Homo sapiens: one gene and its partners. The gene in region 2 interacts genetically with the main gene of each other region. Each region holds a gene or a part of one and is shown on either strand. Other genes may lie near its edges. The genes, in order: CAND1, EZH2 and SEC23IP.

Region 1 (3,655 bases), on a different chromosome or scaffold from region 2:
GCAATAAGAAATACCCTTCTTGGCCAAGGAGAATTCTAAGGCATTGAAGACACTGGTGTTATTTGGAGTGGTTTAAAAATGATGTCCGTGAGTTTTAGTGGACTACATACCAATAGACTTGCAATTTATTTTTAACTAGGCTCATCATATGCCCGAAGCTCAGTGGTTACGGCTGTGAAATTTACAATTTCTGACCATCCACAACCTATTGATCCACTGTTAAAGAACTGCATAGGTAAGTGGAAACAAAGATAAACATACTGATTTTTGGACTTTAGAATTCTCAAGAAACTCTTGAACTTAGTAACTAGAAATATCGAGGAATTAAAATGCTTATAAAATAATTGTTTAAAAGAAAATTGATATGATCTTACAACTTTTAACAAATTGCATTTGCCTGTATTGTTTGTAATTATTCCTAGATGATTTTGCACATAAATGAAGTTATAATATACCAGCATGTCTTTAGAGTCAACTACATATTTGATAGCCATATTTTTGGGGTGACCTAAGATAGCTTTAGTGGATAAAGCAAAAAGATACTAGATTTATATGGCCAGTCTGAAGTTTCTCCCTAGATTTAAATGAGTCTTGCTTGAGCTATTAAGGCCTCAAATTTCAATTATTACTTCTAACACCCAAGGAGATCTATGGAGATTTCCATATTTAAGGTCAAAATAACCTAAGAATAAAAAATAAAGGGGGGGAGAGCTAATTCCCAGAAGAACTAAGAGGAGATAACCCAAGAAAAACTAGGGCTTCTCTATTTCTGTGAAGACAAGAATTAGCTTTTGGGATTATTTCTGATTTTATAACCTCCTTGCATTTTGTTTTTATCATTGGTTTTCCTAGAGTTTGATAATAGCCAAAAACACCTCAGAATTTAGTTTGTTGCTTTCTTGAGGACAGGATAATGGAGATAACCATCAGGGAGGATTGAGGGATTTGGCAAAGAAGCTTTGTAGCTTTGTGCCATTCTTCAGTGTGCCAGAAAGAAAAAAAATACAATATAAAATTTGAACTGCATAGAAAGGGATTGCCAATTCAGAATAAGGAAAGCACAGGCACAAATGGGTTCTATTGCTAGGGCCTAGAAATTATTTAAAGTCTATATGAGAAACAACTTATTGGCATTTCCCCCACACATTTTCTGCTTTGATATGTTTATTGAGGACATTGGTATTATGCAAAATAGGACAGAGGAAGAGGCCCATGCCATATCTCTAGAAATATCTTTCCATGTTGACAGCAGTCAACCAGTATGCATTGTTGATACAGTTACTCAGCCAGGTAGTTAGCATTCTAATTGAATTATGATCTAGTTAAGTATTCATGACTATTTGAACATCAGAACCACCTGGGAAACTTTTTAAAAATTGAAATTGCTAGTTCATGACACCATTTTGTCCATAATAGCAATATTTTAGATGCTTTACTGAAAGCGGATATATACTCTATTGTAATTACTCTTCTAATCTACCAGTTTAGTATGCAAATAAAGGGGAGGGGAGATTAGTTTGGTACATTTATATTGTTTTTGAAACCACGCTGTTTCTCAGACTTTTTTTTTTAAATCAGTGCTGGAACTTTCTTGGATATCAACATTGGGTTTCCCAATCTACAGTATCTGAAGTCTCTCTTTCCTCCCATATTTTCAAATTGCAGGTTTTTCAAGTTGGCATTCAAGTCTTTTATCTCTCCTACATTTCCCTGTGTATTCTAAAAGATTGCTGATGATAGAGTTGAGATCATATAATGATGAATAATAGCTACATGTGAATACTTAGTGTGTACTAGACATTGTCTTCAACAATATATGCGCCGTTTATTCTGCTCAGTATAGCTCTAAAAGGTTTATAATCCTCATTTTATTGACTGAGAAACTGAGGTTCTTGCCTAAAGTAACTTGCACAAAATCATACATTTAACAAGTAAAATGATTTGAACCACCAACCATGTGACTCCAAAGATCTTTGCATTATACTTTCTTGCCCACATTTGCAAGAGTAAGCAGACTTTTAAAATACCTAGATGGCTTCTCTGGCTTTTGTCCTATGTTAGCTTTCAATTTTCTCCTTTTATATTATTTTCCTGTGAATTCGTGTATTTCTTACTGAAGACAGAAATAAAGTAGGGCTTTTGGAGGCACGTTTCTCTTTCATTTGATTAATTGTATATCTGCTAATAGTACTCCATCTTTATTAAGCAGTGGGTCTGTCTTCACTTCATTTTTTTATTCTTATTTTGAACTTAGTTTAAAAATATTTTTGTTGCTGCTTTTAGTGAACTACAAGGAGAATCAAGCATGTGATTAGTCTTTTTAGCTCTGTCTCTGTCATATCTTATATCTATAGAAGTGATATTGAGGAACTTTATGGACTCTTCTTCCATACCCTCTGCATTATAAGTGCTGAGAGTGGATTATCAATTGAAAATATATTCACCTTCAGAAATGATAGTTGCGTTGCTGCTGAAAGAAACGTTATGGTTCACTTAGTGTTTCATCAGGTTCTTCCCTGACCGTCACTGAAGAAATAACAATGACACCAGCAAAAATAAATTATATCAACTTAGAGAAAATATAATGTATATTGTATTTTAAGTTTATCATGTCTGTCTGTTGCTTTTCTTGTAATATTTCAGGTGATTTCCTAAAAACTTTGGAAGACCCAGATTTGAATGTGAGAAGAGTAGCCTTGGTCACATTTAATTCAGCAGCACATAACAAGCCATCATTAATAAGGGATCTATTGGATACTGTTCTTCCACATCTTTACAATGAAACAAAAGTTAGAAAGGAGCTTATAAGAGAGGTAAGTTAGATCACACTGTTTATTTGAGCTTGTCTTTGACTTAAGTATTGTATATCCACACGTTCTTTTTTGCTTTAACAGGTAGAAATGGGTCCATTTAAACATACGGTTGATGATGGTCTGGATATTAGAAAGGCAGCATTTGAGTGTATGTACACACTTCTAGACAGTTGTCTTGATAGACTTGATATCTTTGAATTTCTAAATCATGTTGAAGATGGTTTGAAGGACCATTATGATATTAAGGTAAGATGTTTGTGCCTATTTATACAATGTTTTAGAAGAAGACTTTGCTAGAGCAACTTTCACCCTTGTAATTTACTCATGTGTCTGAGAAAAATCAGGTTGTCTGTGAAGATTTTGATAAGCATATTGTAAACTATAAAGTGCAAAAGTAATAGGCAGTGTAACACCAGTTGACGTGTAAGAAAGATCCAGAGCCCTTTTTATTGGAGGAGGAAGTGGCAGTGGATGCAAAATGCTGTGTGCCCACTTGCTTAGTGAATAGTCCCTAGATCCTTTCCCTCAAAAAAGTCCCGACAGATTTTGCTGTTTAAAGTATAAATCTGTAACTTTTTGGCCTGTCTTAACATTGGACCATAGTTGCTACCCATGGAGGGTTTTCTTAGCATTGTCTTGATTAAGTCTCCTGAGCTACCTTTGGGGCTAGTCTGAATTGTAACTGTATCATTTACCTGAATGAGGAATTTTTGTTTTTCAATATAATATACTGTGTTTAATATCAAGAATTTTGTTATAGGACATGGAACTTTTCAGATATACAAAACAATCTGTAGAAGCTACTTGAGAGAAATCATACTGCGTCTTATGTTTGGATAATG
Region 2 (3,655 bases):
CCTTTAATACAACTTTGCCTGCCTCACACACACAGACACACAACACCCAGGCGACTGACTGGCCACTGGCACAGGGCCAGGTATGGGGCTCAATAAATACTTGTCAAATTGATGAGTTTCGTCAAGTAAACAAGGGAGTGCTCCCATGTTCTTATTTTTGATTTTTTAAATTGCTAACCAAAGACCTATTTAGTTCTCATGCAATTGCATCAAAGCAACAAATACTTACACTCTGAACTACATTGACAAAACTTTTCACAAAAATTTTGTGCTATCACACAAGGGCACGAACTGTCACAAGGCTGCCGTGGATGATCACAGGGTTGATAGTTGTAAACATGGTTAGAGGAGCCGTCTGAGTAAAGATAACATCATGCAGGCCAATGAATCCAGGGAGATGGAAACGATCATACACAATTAACACGAGTACATTCTTCCCTACTACCTGTGGAGTGTAGCTGGCCTGCCTTTACTGAATGCATAACATTACACATATTCCGGTTTCCACAACGATGGCAAAAAATACTCTCCCACCCCCAAGTGCTTATGAGTTCCATCTAAAGCACGGCTACATCTCAGTCCCATCCCAAAGCACTTCTCCTTCAACTGACTCGGACTCACACCTTCCAGTCAGCCTCCACTTTACAGAAGAGAATTGACTGGGGATTCATCAGTAGACGTCCTCCATTCAAATTGGTTTAACATACAGAAGGCAATTATATTAGAATAACCCAAGCTCTAATCCAGTTACTATTCTAAAACAAATGAAAACAAAGCAGATATTGTTAAGCTAATAATGAGAGGAATGGAAAGATGCTAACCCTTTTTCAGCTGTATCTTTCTGCAGTGTGCAGCCCACAACCTGCAAAAACACAAAGAAAATTAAACCAAATTTCTGCGGGAAGCTACAAATCCAACAGAGAGCTGCTTAACTGGATCTATCTGTGCCATGAATACAGGAATGCGTTAAAGCCAAGAGTCATGCCCTGCCCAGTTTATATTTGCCATCAGTTTGAAGCAACTCAAACAGCTTGATGGCTCAGGCTGCCCCAGGTGTGGCAAGACGTCATTTCCTGTGTTCATCCATGACTCCTGGTCAGAACTCCTGAGCTCCCAATGCTGCACAAAGCAGCAGGTGTGTCTGCCTGTTGATTTATTCTGATGTGGATGACACTGATCACTTCCTCTTATTTCAGGCATCATAAACCAAGCAAGTGAACTACGTGGTCAGAAATAATTCAACCAAAATTTCAGAAGCATCTCCTAAAGCCTAAAAAATAAAAATAAAAACTTGACTTTAAAAAAATTCTAAATTGGGTTGGCCCTACACTTATTTTTGTTAAAGTAAGAAAATGTAACATGAGCCTGTACACAATTTAAGAAGCATAATCTAACTGCACCCTTACCTACCCAATTAGGTTTCTCATTTTTAAAAATGTGAGGTAGAGGTATGGGGAGATTAGAGCAGATAGTCCACTCATCAATTTTTCTGGTTCTACATTTACAAATCAAATCAGCCTGAAAACATTCGCTAAGGTGAAAATAACATTCACACAAGCTTAAAGTAGGGTACCCATTAGGAGTATCGGAATGCAATGCCACACAACTTAGAAATTCAAGCTCCTGGAATAAAAGATACTTCTAAAAACTGGCCCAGAGCTCACATCAGAAACACAGAACATTTCATGATGTTAAAGTAATTGTTTACGTAACCTTTACTGCAAAAGCTACTAAATATGTTTTTCTTAACCCAAATGCAGTCTGGTAACCGTAATTTTTATGACTCTTAACATACCAAATATACTGAAGGCTGCTGTATTCTTATAGAAAAATACTAGCAATTCCCAGTGGAAATAAGATTCCATAGTTCTGTTTTTGATGGCAGTTTAAGGTTTTTTAAAAATAGACTAAGTAGAAACCAACAACAGCCCTTAGGAAGGGCCTTGCCTGCAGTGTCTATCTATGTTGACTTCTCTAAGGAGCTTCATGACAGACTCACCGGTGTTTCCTCTTCTTTTTCCTTGGAGGAGTATCCACATCCTCAGCGGGAGCTGGAGCTATGATGCTAGATTCTTTGACTCTAAACTCATACACCTGACAAGAGGCACAGTCACAGAGCCATGAGGACAGTCTTATTTAGGCAAACCATTCTTATACTCATGCATACCAGAAAAATGTCTTTGTCTCTTCTGTGACACTGCTAGATGCTGGGGATATAACACACATCGCTGTCCCTACCCTCACATTAGGGGTAGCTGTAATTATATTCTGGTCAAGAACTGTGATGCTAAATTTCAATTCTTACTAGCTTTTAAAAGCTACTGCTATCTAACCTTAAAAGTCTACATTGGGGAAATTCTGTAACATACCTGGAGAATAATTTTCATTCAATTCCCTCTTGGGAAGAAAAAAAAATTATTTTTAGGAGATGAATAGGAGCTTAGTAATAACCAAGAATTTTCTTTGTTTGGACAACGAGTACAGTTTTATCTCTATGTTTGAAGCTCTTTTAACAACATTTTTATCGGATATCTTACCTGTCTACATGTTTTGGTCCCAATTAACCTAGCAATGGCACAGAAATTGTCATAGTAAGTGCCAATGAGGACTCTAAACATTGAGGCTTCAGCACCACTCCACTCCACATTCTCAGGAGGTTCAATATTTGGCTTCATCTTTATTGGTGTTTGACACCGAGAATTTGCTTCTACAAAACCAAATGTAAGCACTGGTCAAGAAATGATTGGAAATAATATTAAGAAGTACAATTCAGGGTGTGCTTAAGAAAAAAGCGAAAAGATGAGGACAACTCAAATCCAATCGGCAAAACACTAACCCATCGTAGTTCACATTTTCCAACAAAACTACTCACAGAACGTCAAGAATATTAAACCAAATGATCCAAATTTCATTATTCCCTACCTGAGAAAGATCGAAAAAAGAAAATGGCACAAAGAATGAGAATAAAGTGCATCATCAGCTTTCAAACAACCAAGCAGGGCAAACACCACAAGCTAGGGTACGGGTGCAGGCAGGAAACAGAAACAACACAGCTACACATTCTTGAGATAACTCTGGTCTTTATACTGAAACTAACCAACTAAGAAAATTATTCAATGCATTATACATCCTTAATCCTCACAACACGAACTTTCACAGAACAGTAAAACCCAGTTATTAGACGTGTCTTACCAGAGGAGCTCGAAGTTTCATCTTTCTTCTCTTCTTCTTCTTTATCATTGTTCTCTCCCCCCGTTTCAGTCCCTGCTTCCCTATCACTGTCTGTATCCTTTGATTCCAGCACATTAATGGTGGGGGTGCTGGGCCTGCTACTGTTATTGGGAAGCCGTCCTCTTCTGCGGCCTCCTGGACGTTTTGGTGGGGTCTTTATCCGCTCAGCGGTGAGAGCAGCAGCAAACTCCTTTGCTCCCTCCTACGAAATGAAAAATGTCAACATCAGGGCAAAGTTCTAAAACTCATTTTGATGGAAGAGAAAAAAAAATACTATATAAGCCAGGTTAGTCAAAAAATGTATCACATTATCCATTTATCACAAATAATCATTTGCATGTCTAATATACTTGTTTTGATATGCTTTTGATAGTCTGAAAATTTCAGAAAGAGAAATATGGGTTCTATATATTCCTAGAATGGT
Region 3 (3,655 bases), on a different chromosome or scaffold from region 2:
AGTTAAGACTGTCATGCTTGTCCAAAAGAATTCTGAATATGCTTCACACCCAAACTGATGTTAGTAGATTATCCTACATGTATATCTGGACAATTACTTAGTGTAATAACTAGACCCCAAAGCAATTTTAAGAAGAATTTTTAAACCTAACAAAACCCCAAATCAAGGATAAATGCTTGAGGTGAGGGATATCTATACCCCATTTATCCTGATGTGATGATTACACATTGCATGCCTGTATCAAAATATCTCATGTAACCCATAAACATATATACCTACTATGTACCCACAAAAATTAAAAATTAAAAAATTTAGAAAAAAATCAATTACAAGGTGAACCAGACCTTCTCACAGAACACAAAGTAAACTAACACCTTTACAGAAATCAATCTAGCAATACATCTCCCATGATTTATTTAACCTTTTTTGTGTGTGTGAGGCGGAGTTTGCTCTTCTTGCCCAGCCTGGAGTGCAACGGCGCAATGCACAGCCTCCGTCTCCCGAGTTCAAGCGATTCTCCTGCCTCAGCCTCCCAAGTAGCTGGGATTACAGGCATGCGCCACCACACTCAGCTAATTTTGTATTTTTAGTAGAGACAGGGTTTCTCCAGGTTGGTCAGGCTGGTTGCGAACTCCCAACCTCAAGTGACCAGCCCGCCTTGACCTCTCAAAGTGTTGGGATTACAGGTGTGAGCCACCACACCCGGCCTATTTAACCTTTAAAATGTGCCTACTCCTTGACCTACTCATTCCATTTCTAAAAATTTATCCTAAAGATAGAATTATAAAAACAAATAGCCCAGGTGCAGTGGCTCACACCTGTAATCCTGCCACTTTGGGAGGCTGAGGTGGGTGGATCACCTAAGGTCAGGAGTTCGAGACAAGCCGGGCCAACATGGTGAAACCCTGTCTCCACTAAAAATACAAAAATTAGCTGGGCGTGGTGGCACAGGCCTGCAATCCCAGCTACTTGGGAGGCTGAGGCAGGAGAATCGCTTGAACCCGGGAGGCGGAGGTTGCAGTGAGCTGAGACTGCACCACTGCACTCCAGCCTGAGTGACAGAGACTCTGTCTCAAACAATAAATAAAAAATAAAAATAAAAAGTTATCCCCAAGGATATACATCAAAAGGTTATTTAAAATAGGAAATTGGTGTGTACAACTGTCAAAACTCAGCTAATTGTACACTTTAAATAAATCGAATTGTATACTGTAAATGGATGCCTTTTACTGTATGTAAATTATACCTCAATAATGTTGATTATAAAATCATAGCTAATAAATTTGGAATGTTTGCAAAAAAATAAATAAAATAGGAAATCACTGGAAATAATCAAAATGTCTAACAGAAACCTGATTAAATAATATTTAACTCAAATGCTAGATCCTCCAGCGCCATTAAAAATGTCTTATATCCTTTCTGCAGGAGATAGCTAAAAAAAAAAATAAGTAAATAAACAAAAATAAAAGTTTTAGAGGATAGACACGATGGTTCACACCTATAATCCCAGAACTTTGGGAGGCCAAGGAAGGAGGATCATTTGAGGCCAGGAGTTTGAGCCCAACATGAGCAACACAGCAATACCGTTTCTACAAAAAAATCTAAAAATCACACGGACATGGTGGGGCACACTTGTAGTCCCAGCTACTCCTGAGGCTGAAGTGTAGTTCAAGGTTGCAGTGAGCTGTAATCACACCACTGCACTCCACCCTGGATGACAGAGCAAGACCCCCCCCCCACTCTTTAAAAAAAAAAAAAAGAAGAAGAAAAAGAAAAAAATTTTAATGTTTTAGAAAAAATCTTAGTAACATTTAAAGTATGTTCACACAAAAAAAAAATAGATTATAGAAACCATAGGTATTATATGTTTGCCAAAAAAAGACATATAACAAAATGAAAACAGTGGTTATCTATGGACATTTTTTATTAAATTGAGTATTCTGCATTTTTCAAATTTTCTACAAAAACGATTTTAAAATCAGACTAGACTTATTTTAAAATTTTTTAATTAGACACCATTTTGGGACAGGTGTGGTGGCTCACACCTGTAATCCCAGCACTTTGGTAGGCTGAGGCAGGAAGATCACTTGAGGCCCAGGAGTTTGAGACTGCAGGTGAGCTGTGATTGCGCCACTGCATTCCAACCTGGACAACAGAGTGAGACCCAGTCTCAAAAAAATATATAATTTAGCCCATAATCCCAGAACTTTGGGAGGTCAAGGCAGGAGGACTGCTTGAGCCCAGGAGTTTGTGACCAGCCTGGGCAACATAGTGAGACCTCATTTCTACAAAACATAAAAAAAAAATTAGCCAGGTATGGCAGCATGTGCCTGTGGTCCCAGCTACTGGTGAGGCTGAGGTAGGGGGATCACTTGAACCTGAGAATTCGAGGCTACAGTGAGCCGTTACCATGCCACTGCACTCTAGCCTGAGTGACAGAGCAAGACCTGGCCTCAAAAAAAAAAATTTTATATATATATATATACACACACACACACACATACACACACACGTACATATACATACACATATATAATTTCTAAAAAATCATTTTGAAGTATTACATCAACACTCAATTTCCTGAGATTCATAGCTGCACTGTGCACATAAGAAGAATGTCCTTATGCTTAGCAAATGTACACCAGGAATTTAGGAGTAAAGAATCATAATGTATTTTACTGACCTTCAAATATTCCCCCCAAAATTGCATATATACAGAAAGAGAAAAAAACGATGAGGGGAAGGGAGGGAAGAGGGAGGGGCAGGAGGAGAAGCAGGAGGAAGGGGCAGGAGAAAGGGATGGGGGAAGAGGGAGGGCTCACATATGCCAGGGTGTGCACATGCACAAATTAAAAAACAAACGGGATGAAATGTTAATGATAAGTAAACCTGAGTAAAGGATATTAGAGTGCTCTTTGTACTCTTTTTATTTTTGCAACTTTTCTTCAAGTTTGAAATTATCATTTTTTAAACTTTTATCTAAAAACCTTTTTAAAAATTTAAGCAACAAACTACAATTAGTTTGTTATAGTTAGCAAAAATACTAACTATATACCACATGCTATGAATCTGGTTACTTTTCAGAATGCCGAAATCCAACATTGTCAAAAATTTGTGTATTGGTATGATTTAAATGAAATGATAAAACAGAGTCCATTCTCTATCTCTAACAGAGAAGTTAGTTACATTCTGATCACAATACTGCTATCTCCACCACACTGAAATGGGTTCTTAATTCTTTTTAATCATTTCTCTTTTTGTTTAATTCTGTTGATTTTTCTTTGGAAATCAAATAAACAATTAGTTGGGAAAAATGCATAAGGGAATTTCATGAAATTTACCCAATGCATACGTTATTCCACCAACTCTCCCTAGATAGAGTTTGACTGATCTAGATCCAAACTCCATAAAGAAATTACTGAAGTAATCAATTTTAGTCCCTGTAATTGAGTGTTTTGATTGACTAGTGTAATTGAAAGATGAGAAACTAGCAGTCTGTTAAGACAATAACCGCTTCAATTCTCCTATGTCTCTAGACAACACTTATTTTTACCGTACTCTAAAATCTGGAAATACTGACACGTAGCTAACTCATTAAAATCAGTTACTGCTTCAATAAACAGGTAATATACACTAAAATATGAGCCATCCAATA

Evidence for each region.
Region 1: changes in EZH2 (region 2) and CAND1 together harm fitness less than expected from each alone (positive genetic interaction), as found in Homo sapiens cells (one large-scale study listed by BioGRID).
Region 3: changes in EZH2 (region 2) and SEC23IP together harm fitness more than expected from each alone (negative genetic interaction), as found in Homo sapiens cells (one large-scale study listed by BioGRID).

The regions. Positions count from the first base shown.
Region 1 is NC_000012.12:67,307,258-67,310,912, forward strand, and holds part of CAND1 (cullin-associated NEDD8-dissociated protein 1), read left to right. Parts: intron 1-139; coding exon 140-235; intron 236-2,643; coding exon 2,644-2,813; intron 2,814-2,894; coding exon 2,895-3,059; intron 3,060-3,655. UniProt on the Homo sapiens protein: Key assembly factor of SCF (SKP1-CUL1-F-box protein) E3 ubiquitin ligase complexes that promotes the exchange of the substrate-recognition F-box subunit in SCF complexes, thereby playing a key role in the cellular repertoire of SCF complexes.
Region 2 is NC_000007.14:148,814,685-148,818,339, forward strand, and holds part of EZH2 (histone-lysine N-methyltransferase EZH2), read right to left. Parts: intron 3,434-3,655; coding exon 3,193-3,433; intron 2,708-3,192; coding exon 2,538-2,707; intron 2,095-2,537; coding exon 2,000-2,094; intron 1,271-1,999; coding exon of another isoform or gene 1,264-1,270; exon of another isoform or gene 869-1,263; intron 863-868; coding exon 822-862; intron 356-821; coding exon 230-355; intron 1-229. UniProt on the Homo sapiens protein: Polycomb group (PcG) protein. Catalytic subunit of the PRC2/EED-EZH2 complex, which methylates 'Lys-9' (H3K9me) and 'Lys-27' (H3K27me) of histone H3, leading to transcriptional repression of the affected target gene.
Region 3 is NC_000010.11:119,899,128-119,902,782, reverse strand, and holds part of SEC23IP (SEC23-interacting protein), read right to left. Parts: intron 1-3,655. UniProt on the Homo sapiens protein: Plays a role in the organization of endoplasmic reticulum exit sites. Specifically binds to phosphatidylinositol 3-phosphate (PI(3)P), phosphatidylinositol 4-phosphate (PI(4)P) and phosphatidylinositol 5-phosphate (PI(5)P).